Linked DNA regions of Homo sapiens: region 2 is linked to region 1. Evidence: fine-mapped expression QTL. Tissue or cell type: whole blood. Region 1 holds a variant in brackets; the other region holds the start of a gene. All regions are shown on one strand. Distances are from middle to middle.

Evidence for each region. PIP is the estimated chance that this variant, and not a neighbour inherited with it, causes the effect.
Region 2: DEF8 starts here. The variant in region 1 is fine-mapped to the expression of DEF8 in whole blood (TOPMed, PIP above 0.99).

The regions. Positions count from the first base shown.
Region 1 is chr16:89,969,009-89,977,108 of GRCh38, reverse strand. It overlaps the pseudogene CENPBD1P and the pseudogene AFG3L1P. Among named protein-coding and RNA genes, the nearest start is that of SNORA119, 20 kb to the right of the region's middle. RefSeq lists enhancers at 3,498-4,481, 4,792-4,851 and a silencer at 4,172-4,651. The variant G/A (reference allele first, on the strand shown) is at 3,549.
Region 2 is chr16:89,944,735-89,952,834 of GRCh38, reverse strand. It overlaps DEF8 (differentially expressed in FDCP 8 homolog), which reads right to left and starts at 4,080. Exons shown (of 13, transcript NM_001242818.2): 1 at 4,021-4,080; 2 at 3,322-3,418. RefSeq lists a silencer at 3,951-4,050 and enhancers at 4,731-5,070, 7,962-8,011.

The DNA.
Region 1 (8,100 bases):
GAACTCCCAAGCTCAGGTGATCTGCCCGTTCTGGCCTCCCGAAGTGCTGGGATGACAGGCATGAGCCCAGCCTTTTTTTTTTTTTTTCAAGATGGGGTCTCATTGGAGTGCAGTGGCTATTCACAGCAGGGACAACAGACAGGTAATACAGCATCCAGCAAGAGGTAAAAGTTTTTGTCAGGCCAAGAAAACAAATAATTTTTCCAGAAGCTCTGTATTTTCTTCAGTCTTCAAGGAGGAAAACGTCGGCCAGGTGCTGTGGCTCATGCCTGTAATCTCAGCACTTTGGGAGGCCGAGGCGGGAGGATCACTTGAGGTCAGGAGTTCGAGACCAGCCTGGCTAACATGGTGAAACCCCGTCTGTACTAAAAATACAAAAATTAGCCGGGCATGGAGGTGGGCGCCTGTAATCCCAATTACTCGGGAGGCTGAGTCAGGAGAATTGCTTGAACCTGGGAGGCGAAAGTTGTATTGAGCCAAGATCGTGCCACTGCACTCCAGCCTAGCGACAGTAAGACTCTCTCAAAAAAAAAAAAAAAAAAAAAAACCACACACATACACAAATATTAAAAAACAAAATCTAAGCACTCAATAACCCAGTACTAACTGTATCCAACAAAATCCCAACATAACCAGTGAATTTATATTGTCCCCAATATTTTATTTTATTTTTTTGAGACAGAGTCTTGCTCTGTCACCCAGGCCGGAGTACAGTGGCGCCATCTCAGCTCACTGCAACCTCCGCCTCCTGGGTTCAAGCAATTCTCCCTATCTCAGCCTCCCAAGTAGCTGGGATTACAGGTGCACACCACCACACTGGCTAATTTTTGTATTTTTATTAGAGACAGAGTTTCACCATATTGGTCAGGCTGGTCTTGAACTCCTGACCTCAGGTGATCCACCTGTCTCAGCCTCCCAAAGTGCTGGGATGACAGGTGTGAGCCCCCAATATTTTATTATAATGAAACAAGACCCACAGTTGACAACACCTATGTTATTTCAGCTGTGTCAACATTCAGGGGGAGGCTGACTCTGTAGGCTACTACCCCAAAGTAAAATCATTCCCCAATTAGTAACTTTCTAATTAACTACATTATTCAAATATCCCTATAAAAGACCACAGTAGACTAAAAAGTAAGACATACTATGAAAAAATTATTAAAATCATAAAAAAAAAAAAAAGCAGCTCAGAAAGAGAATGCTGACAGTAAAGGCTGTGGGGCTAACAAACGATTCCACATCGTGAACGAAATCGATCTGCAGCAGCCATCCCAGCACCAATGGCACACAGTACCTGACACAGAGCTAGCAATGACTCTCGAAGGATCCCATGAATGTTTCCCCGATGGGGGTTTGGAACCCAAGGTGTGGGTCAACAGGAGACCTACACAAACAACAGAAGGTGGCCATACTGCACGTTGTAGGGTGCCAGGTGCCTCTTACCTCACTTGATCCCCATTGCCCATCTGAGAAAGTAGAACCTGAGAGGTAATGTGAGTGCCTGAAGACAGCTGGTAGCTGAAAGTGTGCAATGAGAATTCTGATGCCCCAATCTTCCAGAGCTTTTCCATGACTACCCCAGGACCACCTCAAAGACAGTGTGGCACTGGTACTGGTGGCTGGGTAGATACCAGGTAGCCTACAGCCCTGAAGGTACAAAGTATGACTCTTCAGGCTTCCAAAACTTGATAAAACATCCAATTCCTTTGCTTTAATTCGCAATTTAGTCCTTTTGTGATTTGGTTAGGAGACAATCTGGTTAAGCCTGATGCAGTTCTCACAGTAAATGTAAACACTAAGATAGGAGTTTACCATTCCTTCTTGGAGTTTTCTGCAAGTCAGTTCACAGCTCACAGTAAATAACCTTGCTAAATTAGTTTTTGTATATGTAAAGCCAAGATGTGAAGGTAGGCAAAACACAAACTCCCTTAAACAGGGCCAAGTGCTGCTGTCCTCTTTCCAGTCAGGCCATAAATGAGTTGACCCTTATTCCGGGTCCCACAGACACACACAGCACACAGGTGCAACGTCAGCAGGCCTATGAGGCCCTGCCCCTCCTTGACCTGTCTATCACTAACCTCTTCCTCATACTGATCACACAGAACTCAAGGCTGGACCCACCCTAGGGCAGTGCATTTTCTATTCCATCTTCCTAGCAAGCTCATCTCAATCCCTCACTTCCTGCAGGGGACACAACAAATAACAGGGTTTATCCCTCCTCCATTCCCTTTCTTCATTTTCTATTTCCTTTATTCTGCTTCCTTTTCCTAACATGCCTAATACTTGCTTATCCATTGTCTGGTTCCTCCTTGCACAGCACGTAAACTCTACGAGAACAAGGACAGAGTAGGTAGCTCAATGAATGAAAGATGACTGCATGGAAGCCTCCACAGCATAAGCTTCCATGAGGAGAGCTGTTAGGGTGTTTTTTGTTTTGTTTCTTTTTTTTTTTTTTTGAGACAGAGTCTCACTCCCAGGCTGGAGTGCAATGGTGCGACCTTGGCTCACTGCCACCTCCGCCTCCCAGGTTCTAAGCGATTCTCCTGCCTCAGCCTCCCAAGTAGCTGGGATTACAGGTGCGTGCCACCACACCGGGCTAATTTTGTATTTTAGTAGAGACGGGGTTTCTCCACATCAGTCAGGCTGGTCTCGAACTCCCCACCTTAGGTGATCTGCCCGCCTCAGCCTCCCAAAGTGCTGGGATTACAGGCGTGAGCCATCGTGCCCAGCCGTCTCTACTAAAAATACAAAATTAGCCGGGAATGGTGGTATGCGCCTGTAATCCCAGCTTCTCGGGAGGCTGAGGCAGGAGAATCGCTTTGAACCTGGGAGCCGGAGGTTGCAGTGAGCCAAGATTGCGCCATTGCACTCCAGCATGGGCAAGAGGGAAACTCCGTCTCAAAAAAAAAAAAAAAATGCAAATTGCTGCCACCTCTCCAACCTCTGCATGTCACCCTCAGTCCACAAGTCATAAAGCTCTCAAAAGAGAGCAAGCCAGTGGGGCAGAGCCCTTGCCTGTCGTGTTCACCAAGATATTCCCTGGTAAATGATTAACAGATCTATCTCTAATAAATGAGAAGCAGATGAATGATCCAGTCCGGGAAGGAACTCAAAGATCATTCAACGTCCGTCCTCCCTTCATAAAGGGGTCTATAGCAGTTCAATGATTCAAAACTCTCCTGGGCTATATTAGGCTGTACACACCGATATTGCATATCGCTGACTTTCAATATGTGTTAGCAACCAGGAGGACCTCTGCAATGCTGATGCCACATGGCCAAAGCTGAAAGACTGCTTTCACTCATATTGCTAGCAACTAAACCATCATACACTTTCCCAAATGAATGGAGATGGCGGGGGGGGGGGGGAGTTCATTCCTGAAGACAGGACAGAAATACTCATGGGATCCTTCTTCTTATTTTACTGCTGTCTGAAAACCATGACAGCTTTCTGGGATCAAAATTCAAAAACTCTGCATTAGAAAAACAATTCAACGTTACTGCTGCTCACTGGGATGTATCAATACAAAAATAAAGCAATCTTAAAAT[G/A]CAGAATATTCCGGTCTTAGACCCTAACCCTATAAAACAGGGTTATGAGCAGGGCACGGTGGCTCAAGCCTGTAGTCCCAGCTACTCCAGAGGTTGAGAAAGGAGAATCGCTTGTGCCCATGAGTTCGAGATCAGCCTAGACAACACAGCGAGACTCCGGCCCCGCTCCCAAATTTTTAAAAATAATATAATAAATAACAATAGGGTTATAGCGATATCTACCTATAGGGCGGGTATAAGACTTAGATAATCCGCGTAAAGCCCTTAGCTCTCAGCATTAGCTGTTAACGACAGTGACTGGTCGCTGTATAAAGAACAGTTTGCAAAACCCTTTCACGCCTCTTATCGTGTCTGGTTCACTGAGTAACTGCGAGGTGGATAAAGCCGAACGCCGCCGAGCCCAGGAGGACACGGGCTGGCACGCGGGGCCACAAAGCTGGTTCGCGAGGAGGTGGGACTCAAGCGCAAATCGCTCAACGCCCGGCGCTTTACAAAGCCGAGCAAGGAGGCTGGAGGTCCCGGTTCCGATGTCCGAGGGGACCGGGCATCCAGTAAACAGCGGGAATTCCGCAAGAAGTGGGTGGAAGAGGTAGCGAGGAGAAGAGCAGGAGTTTGGAGACGGAGGAGGCGGGGGGGCGGGAAGCTCTGGCCAGGTGCTGTCGGCCTCACTGCGCGGACCAGGTCAGGGCCGCCGCCCTCCCGCGCTCCCCCGCGGCCGGCGCAGGCGAATGGCGTCACGCGGCGTCCAGAGCAGACCAGCCGCCCGGCACCGGCGGAGAGCGCCTCCCCGCTCACCTGTCGGGCCTTGCCCAGGGCCCTCGCGCTGGTCTTGGCCGTCCTGCCGCCTCCTGGGCCACCACATCGCCACAGCAAGGCCAGCGGCCTGGCCACCGCTCTACTGCCGGCCGCCGCCAGCAGCCGGTACCACATCCCCAGACCCAGATCCCGCGCCGCCCGGGCGCGCGCATGCGCAATGGGAGAGCGGTCCTAGGGCCCCGCGAGCGCAGGGAGGACTCGCGCAGGCGCGGCAGGGGCGCGGCGCCGGCTGGGGCCCCGTCTTGGGTGTCCACGCCGTCGCCTGACCGTTCGAGGGTTTGATCGCCAGCGCAGCCTCGCCCTGCCCAGACAGCTGGGCCCTAAGGGGATAGCCAGCGCCTTTAGACTTATCTTAAATCGGGCATCGGCATCAACACTTATTTCTGGGGTCCTCCATGGAAAGCAGCTCCCGAAACAACACCCGCCCGGTCCGCCCTCCGCTGCACTGGAAAACCGCCCCTGGACGTTTCTGCCGCAGTGTCCCCCTCACGGAGTTCCGTTTGTCTGCTTGGTCGGTTGTTCTCTGGAGCCCCAGGACCCAGGCCGCTTGTATGTGCCTGCGGCCGCACGGCCCCAACACGCGGACTTCGAGCGGTACCGGGAGACCCGCGCGGCCTCCTCGGAGTGGACAGTGAAGCAGCAGCTGGGCTAGGCAGTGGGGCTGGGCCTGCCCATGGGGACCCGTCCACGTCTCCAGGACATCAGCCTGAGCCTCTTCGCAGCCTCGTTTTCTGTTGACCGAGTTCTGCAAGGGGACGTAGAGGAACCACAGCGTTCTTGCGCTTGAGACCGCTGTGATTTTCTGACATTTTGGAGGCAGAAATGCCTGGGGAAAGGCCCACAGATGCAACTGTCATCCCTAGTGCCAAAAGGGAACGGAAAGCGATTACCCTTGACCTCAAATTGGAAGTGTTACGACGATTTGAAGCGGGTGAGAAGCTCAGTCAGATCGCAAAGGCCTTAGATCTTGCTATCTCTACAGTGGCGACCATTCGAGATAGTAAAGAAAAAATCAAAGCGAGTTCACAAATAGCTACTCCTCTGAGAGCCTCTCGGTTGACTCGCCATCGAAGTGCAGTGATGGAGAGCATGGAGCAGCTGCTGAGCTTGTGGCTGGAAGACCAGAGCCAGCCAAATGCGACCTTGAGCGCCGCCATCGTTCAGGAGAAGGCTGAGTTTGATGACTTACAGCGTGAACATGGCGAAGGTTCTCAAACGGAGAGGTTTCATGCAAGTCAAGGGTGGCTTGTGAGATTCAAGGAGTGCCACTGTTTGCCCCACTTCAAGATGAACAGCGCAGCTCCCAGCAACAAGGACATGTACACAGAAATGCTGAAAAGCATCATCGAAGAAGGTGAGTACACCCCCCAGGTGTCTTTAACGTAGATGAGACGAGACTTGATTGGAAGAGAATGCCCAAAGGAACGTTTATTTCCGAGGAAGAGAATGCTGAGCCAGGGTTTAAGTCATCCAAAGATCGCTTGATGCTGCTGCTTGGTGGCAGTGCAGCTGGGGACTTTAAGTTGAAGCCCTTACTGGTGTACCGCTCAGAAACCCGCAAGGCTCTGAAGGGTTCTTGAAGCCCAGTTTGCCCGTGATTTGGCGCTCCAACAGAAAGGCTTGGGTGACCAGGAGCATCTTTCATGAATGGTTCACTTACTTTTTTTGCCGTTGAAAAATACAGTGCCCAAAATAATCTCACCAACAAAGCACTGCTCATACTAGACAGTGCGTCATGCCACTCTGTAAATTTGAGCGACCTTTCTGATAACTAAGAGTAGAATACCTTCAGGCCAGGCGCGGTGGCTCACGCCTGTAATCCCAGCACTTTGGGAGGCCGAGACGGGCGGATCACCTGAGGTCAGGAGTTCGAGACCAGCCTCAACATGGAGAAACCCCGTCTCTATTAAAAATACAAATTTAGCCGGGCGTGGTGGTGCAGGCCTGTAATCCCAGCTACTCGGGAGGCTAAAGCAGGAGAATTGCTTGAACCTGGGAGGCGGAGGTTGTGGTGAGCCGAGATCGCGCCATTGCACTCCATCCTGGACAACAGGAGTGAAACTCCGTCTCAAAAAAAAAAAAGAAAAAAAAGAAGTACAAGAGTATAATACCTTCATGACAGTACAGCTGACTCAATCCGGACCACGTGTCAAGGTGTAATCTCGACCTTGAAAGCTCATTATCTGAGAAGGACTTTTCAGCACATCCTAGAAGCAGCGGATGGTGAGGACACAGCTATGATCAGGGAATTTTGGAGAAACTACAGCATCATGGATGCTGTGGACATGGCCATCGCATGGGAGGAGCTCAAACCAGCACTAATGAACAGCATGTGGAAGAAGATTTGGCCTGAGTGTGTTCAGGCCCAGCGTTTTTCCCAGGCAGATAACATTGCACAGCTTCAAAAAAACATTGTGACCCTTGCCAGAAATGTGGCCTTTGAAGAGGTTGCTGAGGCTGCTGTGGACCAGTTGCTGCAGTCCCATGAAGAAGATCTCTCAAATGAGGAACTGATGCGGCTGGAACAGGAGCTGGCAGTGGGGGAGGAGGAGAGGGAAGATGGTCCCTGGGCACTGTGGCAGCTAACCACAGGAAGACTGTCGGCAGCCCTCTCACATTTTGAGGCTGGCTTGTAGGTCCTTGCTAGTAACAGCCCTAATGATGACTGGAAACTGAGAGGTTCCAGAGAAATCAGTGTTGCAGTAAACTGCTAGCAGGAGCTGTACAATGAGAAAAAGCGCCACTCAAAACAACTCTCTTAGGTCATTTTTCAATGTGTGTAACCAAAAGTTAATCAGAATAAAGCGGAAGCACCATGATGACCTCAACAGTGGAGGCCCAGCCAGGCCTCCCTGCTCTGTGGTGTTGGACATCCCTGGAAACCTTGCTGTTGGTATTTCCATTTTGATACTTGAGAGCATCAAATTTTGTCATTAAAATGTTATTTAAATATATGCTTTTAAAAGCTCATATATGTGTAAGAATCGCCAGGAAAACTTTTTTTCTTTGAGACGGTCTCGCTCCATCATCGAAGCTGGAGTGCAGTGGCACAATCTTGGTTCACTGTAGCCTCGACCTCCAAAGTTCAAGCAATCCTCATACCTCAGCCTCTGGAGTGTTGGGACTACAGGCACATGCCACCACCACCAGCTAATTATTTTGGTAGAGAAGGAGTCTGTGTGTTGCCCAGGCTGGTCTGGAACTCCCGGGCTCAAATGATCCTCTAGCCTGGACCTCCAAAAGTGCAGGGATTAAAAGTGTGAACCACCATGCCCAGCAGAAGACGTTTTTTAAAAAAGAAAAATTGAGGCCGGGCACGGTGGCTCACGCCTGTAATACCAGCACTTTGGGAGGCTGAGGCAGGAGGATCACAAGGTCAGGAGATCAAGACCATCCTGGCTAACATGGTGAAACCCCATCTCTACTAAAAATATACAAAAAAATGGCCAGGCACGGTGGCTCACACCTGTAGTCCCAGCACTTTGGGAGGTCAAGGCAGGCAGATCATGAGGTCAGGAGATCAAGACCGTCCTGGCTAACGAGGTGAAACACGTCTCTACTAAAAAATACAAAAAAAATTAGCCGGGCATGGTGGCAGGCGCCTGTAGTCCCAGCTACTCAGAGGCTGAGGCAGAAGAATGGCATGAACCTGGGAGGCAGAACTTGCAGTGAGCCGAGATCACACCACTGCACTCCAGCCTGGGCAACAGAACGAGACTCCATCTCAAAAAAAAAA
Region 2 (8,100 bases), 24 kb after region 1:
CCTGTGGGGCAGGAGTGTGGGTTGGGCACCTGCACGCCAGCCTGAAAGGACAAAGCACCCATGGACAGGCTGCCCGTGGACCCCAACAGGGAGGCACGGGGAAGACACAGGGAACGTGAGTGGGCCCCAGTCCCACCTCCTTCTCTTATTACCTGATGACTGTGGGTGGGTCACAGAGTCAGAGGCGGCCACCCGATGCCAGCACCTCCCCAGTCTCCCAGGGAGCACCCAGGACACAGGAGAAATCAGGCCATCCCAACATCACTCCTCCTTCTTCCTGAATGAGGAGCCTCATTTTTGTTTGTCACATAATTTCCCAGCCTCCCCAGCAGCTAGACCTGGTAAAGTGACTGTTCTGACCCCCTCGGCTTGAGAAGATCAGGCAGATCTGAGCAGCTCTGGGCTCCTGGCTTCACTGACATACCCAAGTGCTTAGCCCTTCCATCCACCCCAGGAAGTACGTGTTCTCCCTGATTTATAGGCAAGAAAAGGGAGAACCAGAGACTAAATCAGGGCTATCTGAAAACAACAGTAATGGGCCGGGCGTGGTAGCTCACACCTATAATCCCAGCACTCTGGAAGGCCAAGGCAGGAGGACGGCATCCGGCCAGGCCCAATGCAATGAGGCCCTATCTCTATTAAATTTTATACAAATATGGGCTGGGCGCCGTGGCTCACGCCTGTAATCCCAGCACATTGGGAGGCCGAGGCGGGCGGATCACCAGGTCAGGAGATCGAAACCATCCTGGCTAACACATTGAAACCCTGTCTCTACTAGAAATACAAAAAATTAGCCAGGTGTGGTGGCAGGCGCCTGTAGCCCCAGCTACTCGGGAGGCTGAGGCAGCAGAATAGCGTGAACCCAGGAAGCGGAGCTTGCAGTGAGCCGAGAACGCACCACTGCACTCCAGCCTGGGCAACAGAGCGAGACTCCATATCAAAAAAAAAAAAAATCTTTTTTACATAAATATGTATGTGTGTGTATATACATATATATGTGTGTGTGTGTATACATACATATGAGAAAAAAGAAAAGACTTCTGAGAATTGTCCTTAAAGGTAGGGGCTGCCCCTCTTCAGCCATCCCTGCCTCCTGCTGCCTGGAATGCAGATGTAAAGGCTGCAGCTGGAATAGCCACACTGGGGAGAGTGACGTGATTGCAGGGGACTGCACCTGAGCCCTAAGCTGCTCACAGCCAGACTTCATTCAAGTGAGAGAAATACGATATTCCCACCAGTGTTATAGGGGAGGTTTTTGTCTCTTGCGGCCAAAGTAGATTCTGACTGAAAGACCCAGCTCGGTGGCTCACGCCTGTAATCCCAGCACTTTGGGAAGCAGAAGTGGGCTGATCACCTGAGGTGAGCAGTTCGAGACCAGCCTGGCCAACCTGGTGAAACCCCGTCTCTACCAAAAATACAAAAATTAGCCGGGCGTGGTGGTGGGCATCTGTAATCCCAGCTACTTGGGAGGCTGAGGCAGGAGAATCGCTTGAACCCAGGAGGTGAGCCGAGATTGAGCCACTGCACTCCAGCTTGGGTGACAGAGTGAGACTCCATCTCAGAAAAAAAAAAAAGAAAAGATTCTGACTGATGATCCCAATAGTTTCATGGTAACAAGACAGACACGTCCAGCTTGAATCCCAACTCTGCTAGCTCCTAGCTGTGTGACCTTGGGTAAGTGGATAAACGTTTCTCTGCCTCCATTCTCCCATGTCTCAAATGGGGATTACAATAGTACCATACAGGGTTATTGTCAAGATTAAAGTAGTTAATACTAAGTTCAGAGAACACTGGCCGGCACATAGTAAGCACCCAATAAATATTGATTATAATTTATCATTATTACTTTTTTTTGAGACAGGGTGTTGCTCTGTCACCCGAGCTGGAGTGCAGTGGTGCGATCACAGCTCACTGCAGCCTCAAACTCCTGGGCTGAAGGGGTCCTCCCATATTAGCCTCCCAAGTAGCTGGAACTCCAGTGTGTGCCACCACACTCAGCTAATTTTTTTTAACTTTTTGTAGAGACGGAGTCTCACTCTGATGCCCAGGCTGGTCTCAAACTCCTGGCTTCAAGCAACCCTCCTGCCTCTGCCTCCCAAATTGCTGGGATTATAGGTGTGAGCTACCATGCCTGGCCTATTACTGTTATTTTTAAGAATCATGGCCGGTGTGTGGTGGCTCACTTTGGGAGGCTGAGGCGGGTGGATCATTTGAGGTCAAGAGTTCAAACCAGCCTGACCAACATGGTGAAACCCCGTCTGTACTAAAAACACAAACAAATTAGCTGGGCATGGTGGTGCATGCCTGTAATCCAGCTACTTGGGAAGCTGAGGCAGGAGAATCACTTGAACACGGGAGGTGGAGGTTGCAGTGAGCCGAGATTGTGCCACTGCACTCCAGCCTAGGCAACACAGCAAAACTCCATCTCAAAAAAAAAAAAAAAATCAGCCCTGATTTAGACTCTGGTTCTCCATTGTCTTGCCTATAAATCAGGGGGAACACCTACTTTCTGGGGTGGATGGAAGGGCTAAGGACTTGTTTATGATGTCAGTGAAGCCAGGAGCCCAGAGCTGCTCAGAACAGACTGGCACTGTCATCACATATGGTGACCAGCCCAGGAAAAAGGTGCAGGAGCTACGCCTGGGGAAGCCGCTGGAAACCTCCTGGTGTTTAAAACATGGCCAGAGGAGCGTCAAGGAAGGCACGCTGGCAGGGACACCTCCGTTCTGCCCAGCAGCTGTACTCTAGGCTACCAGCTCTCCTCCGGGCTGTGAAAAAAGGCATCTTTTATTTGCCTATTTACTGACAGTCAGTGCCAGCCCCAGGCCTGGCGCACGGGCAGGGGATGAATGAGGGGAGGCCGCTGGCCTCGCAGCCTTAGCTTCTGCTCACACAGACCTGGGGATGCCGGCCACAGTGGCCGACTCTGAGCAGAACGCCAGCCTGCCCCTCTCACCAGGCTCACCCCACCAGTTCTGCACCCAGATGTGGGACTTGGCCTCAGAAAGGAGCGGGCAGGAAGTGGAAGAGTGAAAGCAAGAGGTCTGGCCACCCCCTGCCCCTCCTCTAGAGCCCACTGCTCTCATCGGGGAGGACCCCACAACTTAGCAATGAAAGGAAGCCGAAGAAAGCCGGCGGGGTTCCGGGGCACGGAGGGACCCTGGGCCGAAGCTCAGGACACGCGGGATGCACGGACCTGGCCTCCCGCGTCCTGCCCGCGGCGTGACCACCAGGAAGCGGTGTCATCACTGCAGCTGCCACCCCGAGAACCTGAGAAGTCACCCCGGTGTGCGGAGTCAACAGCGTCCTGTCTGCCCATACCTGCATCGCCTGCCAGGGCCCAGGGGCTCGCAGGGACAGGATGGCCATTCCTCTAGGGCTGCTGGCCACGGAAGCCTGGCCGTGGGTTCGGCACCTGCTGCAGGGAGAAGCCACCCCAGCACTGTGCCTCCCCACCCACCACACCCGCGGGAGCTCGCCCGGTCTCCCGGGCTCCTCGGGGGCAGGTCTCTCCCACCCACCCGTTCCACCGAGGGGGAAACTGAGGCTCGGAGCAGCCCAGGGCGGGGGCACGGCCACGCGGGTCCCCTGAGCCGCCCGGGTGCTCCGCACGCAGCTGGTGTGGACGCCGGAGCAGCGGCGGCGTCCCCGGGGTGGGGCGGCCGAGGTCTCGAGGCCCCTGCGCCGGGCGGGCCGCCCTCCCAGCCCCGTCCCCGCCGGCCCCGACCTCGCCGGCCCCGTCCCCGCCGGCCCCGTCCCCGCCGGCCCCGTCCCTCCCAGCCCCGACCCCGCCGACCCCGTCCCCGCCGGCCCCGTCCCTCCCAGCCCCGACCCCGCCGGCCCCGTCCCCGCCGGCCCCGTCCCCGCCGGCCCCGTCCCTCCCAGCCCCGTCCCCGCCGACCCCGTCCCCGCCGGCCCCGTCCCTCCCAGCCCCGACCCCGCCGACCCCGTCCCCGCCGGCCCCGTCCCCGCCGGCCCCGTCCCCGCCGGCCCCGACCCCGCCGGCCCCGCGCCGCTCACCTGACCGCCGCCTCGCATCTGTCTCCCGGCTGCGCTGGATCCGCCCGGCCGCCCCGCTACGCTGGATCCAGCCCCGCGCTCGCTGCTGCCGCCTCCGGCGCGGAGGTTCATGGCACGCGGGTCGCGAGTCTGCGAGCCCCGGAGTCCGCCCGGCTGTTCCGCGGGCCTGACCTGGGGCTGCGCGTCCTGGGTTTCCTCTCATCGCAGAAGGCCTGTGGCTGAAACCCAAACCCCAACACGTTTAAAAAAAATGGGCGGGCGCGGCGGCTCACGCCTGTCATCCCAGCGCTTCGGGAGGCCGAGGCGGGCGGATCGCGAGGTCAGGAGATCGAGACCATCCTGGCTAACACGGTGAAACCCCGTCTCCACTAAAAATACGAAAAATTAGCCGGGCGCGGTGGCGGGCGCCTGTAGTCCCAGCTACGCGGGAGGCTGAGGCGGGAGAACGGCGTGAACCCGGGAGGCGGAGCTCGGAGTGAGCCGAGATCGCACCACTGCACTCCAGCCTGGGCGACAGAGCGAGACTCCGTCTCAAAAAAACAAAAAGGGTGGCTTTTAACACTTTTTTTAACCTCAGTGGTTGAGGAGGAAAAAGGAACAGAGAACCACCGTGTGCAGGTGCCGCCAGCCACCTGCAGGGCCCCGCGGGGGCTTCACGGCTGCAGAGGGAGGGACCCGGCGCGGCTCTACCCTCTTTACACAGGAGGACGCGCCACACTGCGCTCAGGAGGCTGCTCCATGCAGGCGCCGGGCAGCGGGACTTCGGAGGCAGCTGGTGTCCGCGGGCCCTGGCGTTATTCCTGCTTTCCCGTTGTTTACACACAGAGCAGGCCTGCTGCTCCCCGCCCCCGTATCCCTACTCTTAGGCTTCTCGCGTGGAAGATTCAGCTGCCCCCGCTTGTGCCCGCAGGGAGGAGCTGAGGACAGATGAAGGCCAGCATATGCGCCTGGTGCGCTTGCCCTGAGCTCGCGGGCTCAGTTTACCCTCCCTGCAGAAAGGTGTGGTTTTGGCTGCCTCTGGGGCTTGGTCCACTTTGTTCAGTGGGCATGGTGATGACAGTGCCAGTAACTGGAGGCCTCCCAAGTGGGAGCCACACACCACCTTGCAGAGACCAGCTCGGTCGGGGAGACCCTAACCCGGCAGCGCTAGAGGAACTAAAGACACACACACACAGAGATAGAGAGGTGTGGAGTGGGAAATCAGGGGTCTCACAGCCTTCAGAGCTGACAGCCTCGAACAGAGACTTACCCACGTATTTATTAACGGCAAACCAGTGATAAGCATTGTTTCTGTAGATATTAGACTAACTAAAAGTATCCCTTATGGGAAACGAAGGGATGGGCCAAGATAAAGGGATGGGTCTGGCTAGTTACCTGCAGCAGGAGCATGTCCTTAAGGCACAGATCGCTCACGCTATTGTTTGTGGCTTAAGAATGCCTTTAAGCAGTTTTCCGCCCTGGGTGGGCCAGGTGTTCCTTGCCCTCATTCTGGTAAACCCACGACCTTCCAGCGTGGGCGTCATGGCCGTCATGAACATGTCACAGTGCTGCAGAGATTTTGTTTATGGCCAGTTTTGGGACCAGTTTATGGCCAGGTTTTGGGGGGCGTGTTGCCAACACCATCTCATTTAACCCTACGGAAGCCTGGGGGCCAGCAGTCACCTACAGGACAGGCAACTCCATCGGCCCCCCCAAGGCCACATCGCTCAGAAAGGGTGCAGTGAGATTCCACCCCAGCTTAGGGTGGCTTCGGACGCCGTGTCCCTCCATGCACTCAGACCTGGAGGGAGACTGCCCTGAGCCGCCGCTCTATCTGCTGCTTCAAGGTCCCCAGTCCTAGAGATTCCACGTCCACCTGGCCTCTCTCCCAGCTCCTCCTTCTGGAAAGGCCTTCCCCATCTCAGCTCCCACCTGGGCCCCACAGTACATCCTCAGCCTGGCAGTGAGAGGGACCCTGGGAAGAAGTCGGCCCCCACCTTCACCTCCTGGCTCCTCTCCCCAACAGGCCAGGCCCACCCCCACCCCCACCTTCACCTCCTGGCTCGTCTCCCCAACAAGCCAGGCCCACCCCCACCGGGGCCCCTGCCTGGCTGAGCCTCTGTGGAGCAGTCCTCCCCAGTAACCCCAACACCTCCTCCTTGCCTCTGCTCAGCAGTCCTCAGTGATCTCTGGGAGGCAGGGCCCTTCCCCTCACTCACTCACCTTCTCCCTAATCACTCGTCACTGTCTGATGTCTTCGGTTTTGCACATTTTTCTTTATTATTTCTGCCCCCCAGCCCCAACCACCAGAAGCAAAGAGCCGTAGGCAGCATTTTGTTGGCCTTCTTTGCTGCTTAATGGCCAGTGCCTGGACACAGAGGGTGCTTCCTTGCATGGACTGAGAAAGGAATGGGTCCCCGGTTGAGGCTGGCCCTGAGAGGAAGGAGGTTCCTCCCAGCAGGTGGCCCACTGCCCAAATGCATGTTAGAACCGGTTGTGGATCTGAACCAGTGTCTACAGAAGCAATGGGAACCCTCCTCCAAGGAGAGACAAAGATAAACCCACACTCTACACGCAGTTTAAGGTCTACTTTCTTAATCAGAATGTGTTGGCCAGGCGCGGTGGCTCATGGCTGGAATCCCAGCACCTTGAGAGGCCGAGGTGGGAGGATTGCTTGAGCCCAGGAATTTGAGGCTGCAGTGACCCGCTGCACTCCAGCTTGGGTGACAGAGCAAGACCCTGTCTCTAAAAATAAATAAATAAGTAAATAAACATAGAGTGTGTCATGACCATCTCTATTCCTCTGTAGACATTCAACAACACATTTTTTTAATTTTTAAATTTTTATTTATTTTGGGACAGGGTCTCACTCTGTCACCCACGCTGGAGTGCAGCGGCTCAGTCTCACCTCACTGCAACCTCCACCTCCCAGGCTCAAGTGGTTCTACCAGTTCAGCCTCCTGAGTAGCCAGGATCACAGGCAAGCGCCGCCACCTGGCTAATTTTGTTTGTGTTTTTTGTAGAGACATTTGCCACATTGCCCAGGGTGGTCTTGGAATCCTGGACTCAAGTGATCCACCCACCTCAGCCTCACAGAGTGCTGGGATTGCAGGCGTGAGCTACCACGCCCGGCCCCATTTTATTCTTATTTTTTATTAAGAGACAAGATCTCAGTCTGGCTAAAGCACAGCGGCATGAGCACAGCTCCCTGCAGCCCCGAATGGCTGGGTTCAAGTGATCACCCAGGCTTAGCCTCCCAGAGTCCTGGGAGAATCTGCAGTTACAGATAATTTATATACTGGTTTAGAACATTTACTATTTTGTTTTCTTTTCTTTCAGATGGGGTTGCCCAGACTGGCCTCCATCTCCTGGGCTCAAATGATCCTCCCGCCTCAGGCCAAGTACCTGGGACCACAGGCATGCACCACCATGCCCAGCTAATTTTTGTATTTTTTATAGAGACAGGGTCTTGCCATGTTGCCCAGGCTGGTCTCCAACTCCTGAGCTCAAGTGATCTGCCCACCTCAGCCTCCCAAAATTCTAGGATTTCAGGCATGAGCCACCACAAACAAATTTATTGAGCACCAACTATATGCCATGCTCTGCTCAAAGCACTAGGACACTGTGGTGAGAAAACAGACAAGGTCCCATCACTCAAGGAACCAGACAAGCAAAGATGCAAACTAATCAGAGATGTGATGAGCACAAGGAAATAAACAGTTTGACGAGACGGTGACTGAGATCAGGGGAGGAAGATGCTTGAGCCAAGACTCAGGGGTCAGAAGGAGAGAACCACTGAAGAGTGGGAGGGGCATCCAGGTAGAAACCATGAGTGCAAGGTCCTTGAGGAACCGAAAGAGCCTCCTATGAATGAGGAACTGGAAGCAGGTCCATGTGGCTGGAGTTTAGTATGAGGTAAAGTGAGGGGAGAGGACCAGAGACGGGAGGCTATGAGCTAATGGTAAACACATTGGCTTTGATTTGTGGTAAGATGGAAGCCATTGGAAATTTCTTTCAGCATTTTTTTTTTTTTAAACAGGGTCTCACTCTGTCGCCCAGGCTGGAGTGCAGTGGCACAATCTCGGCTCACTGCAGCCTCAA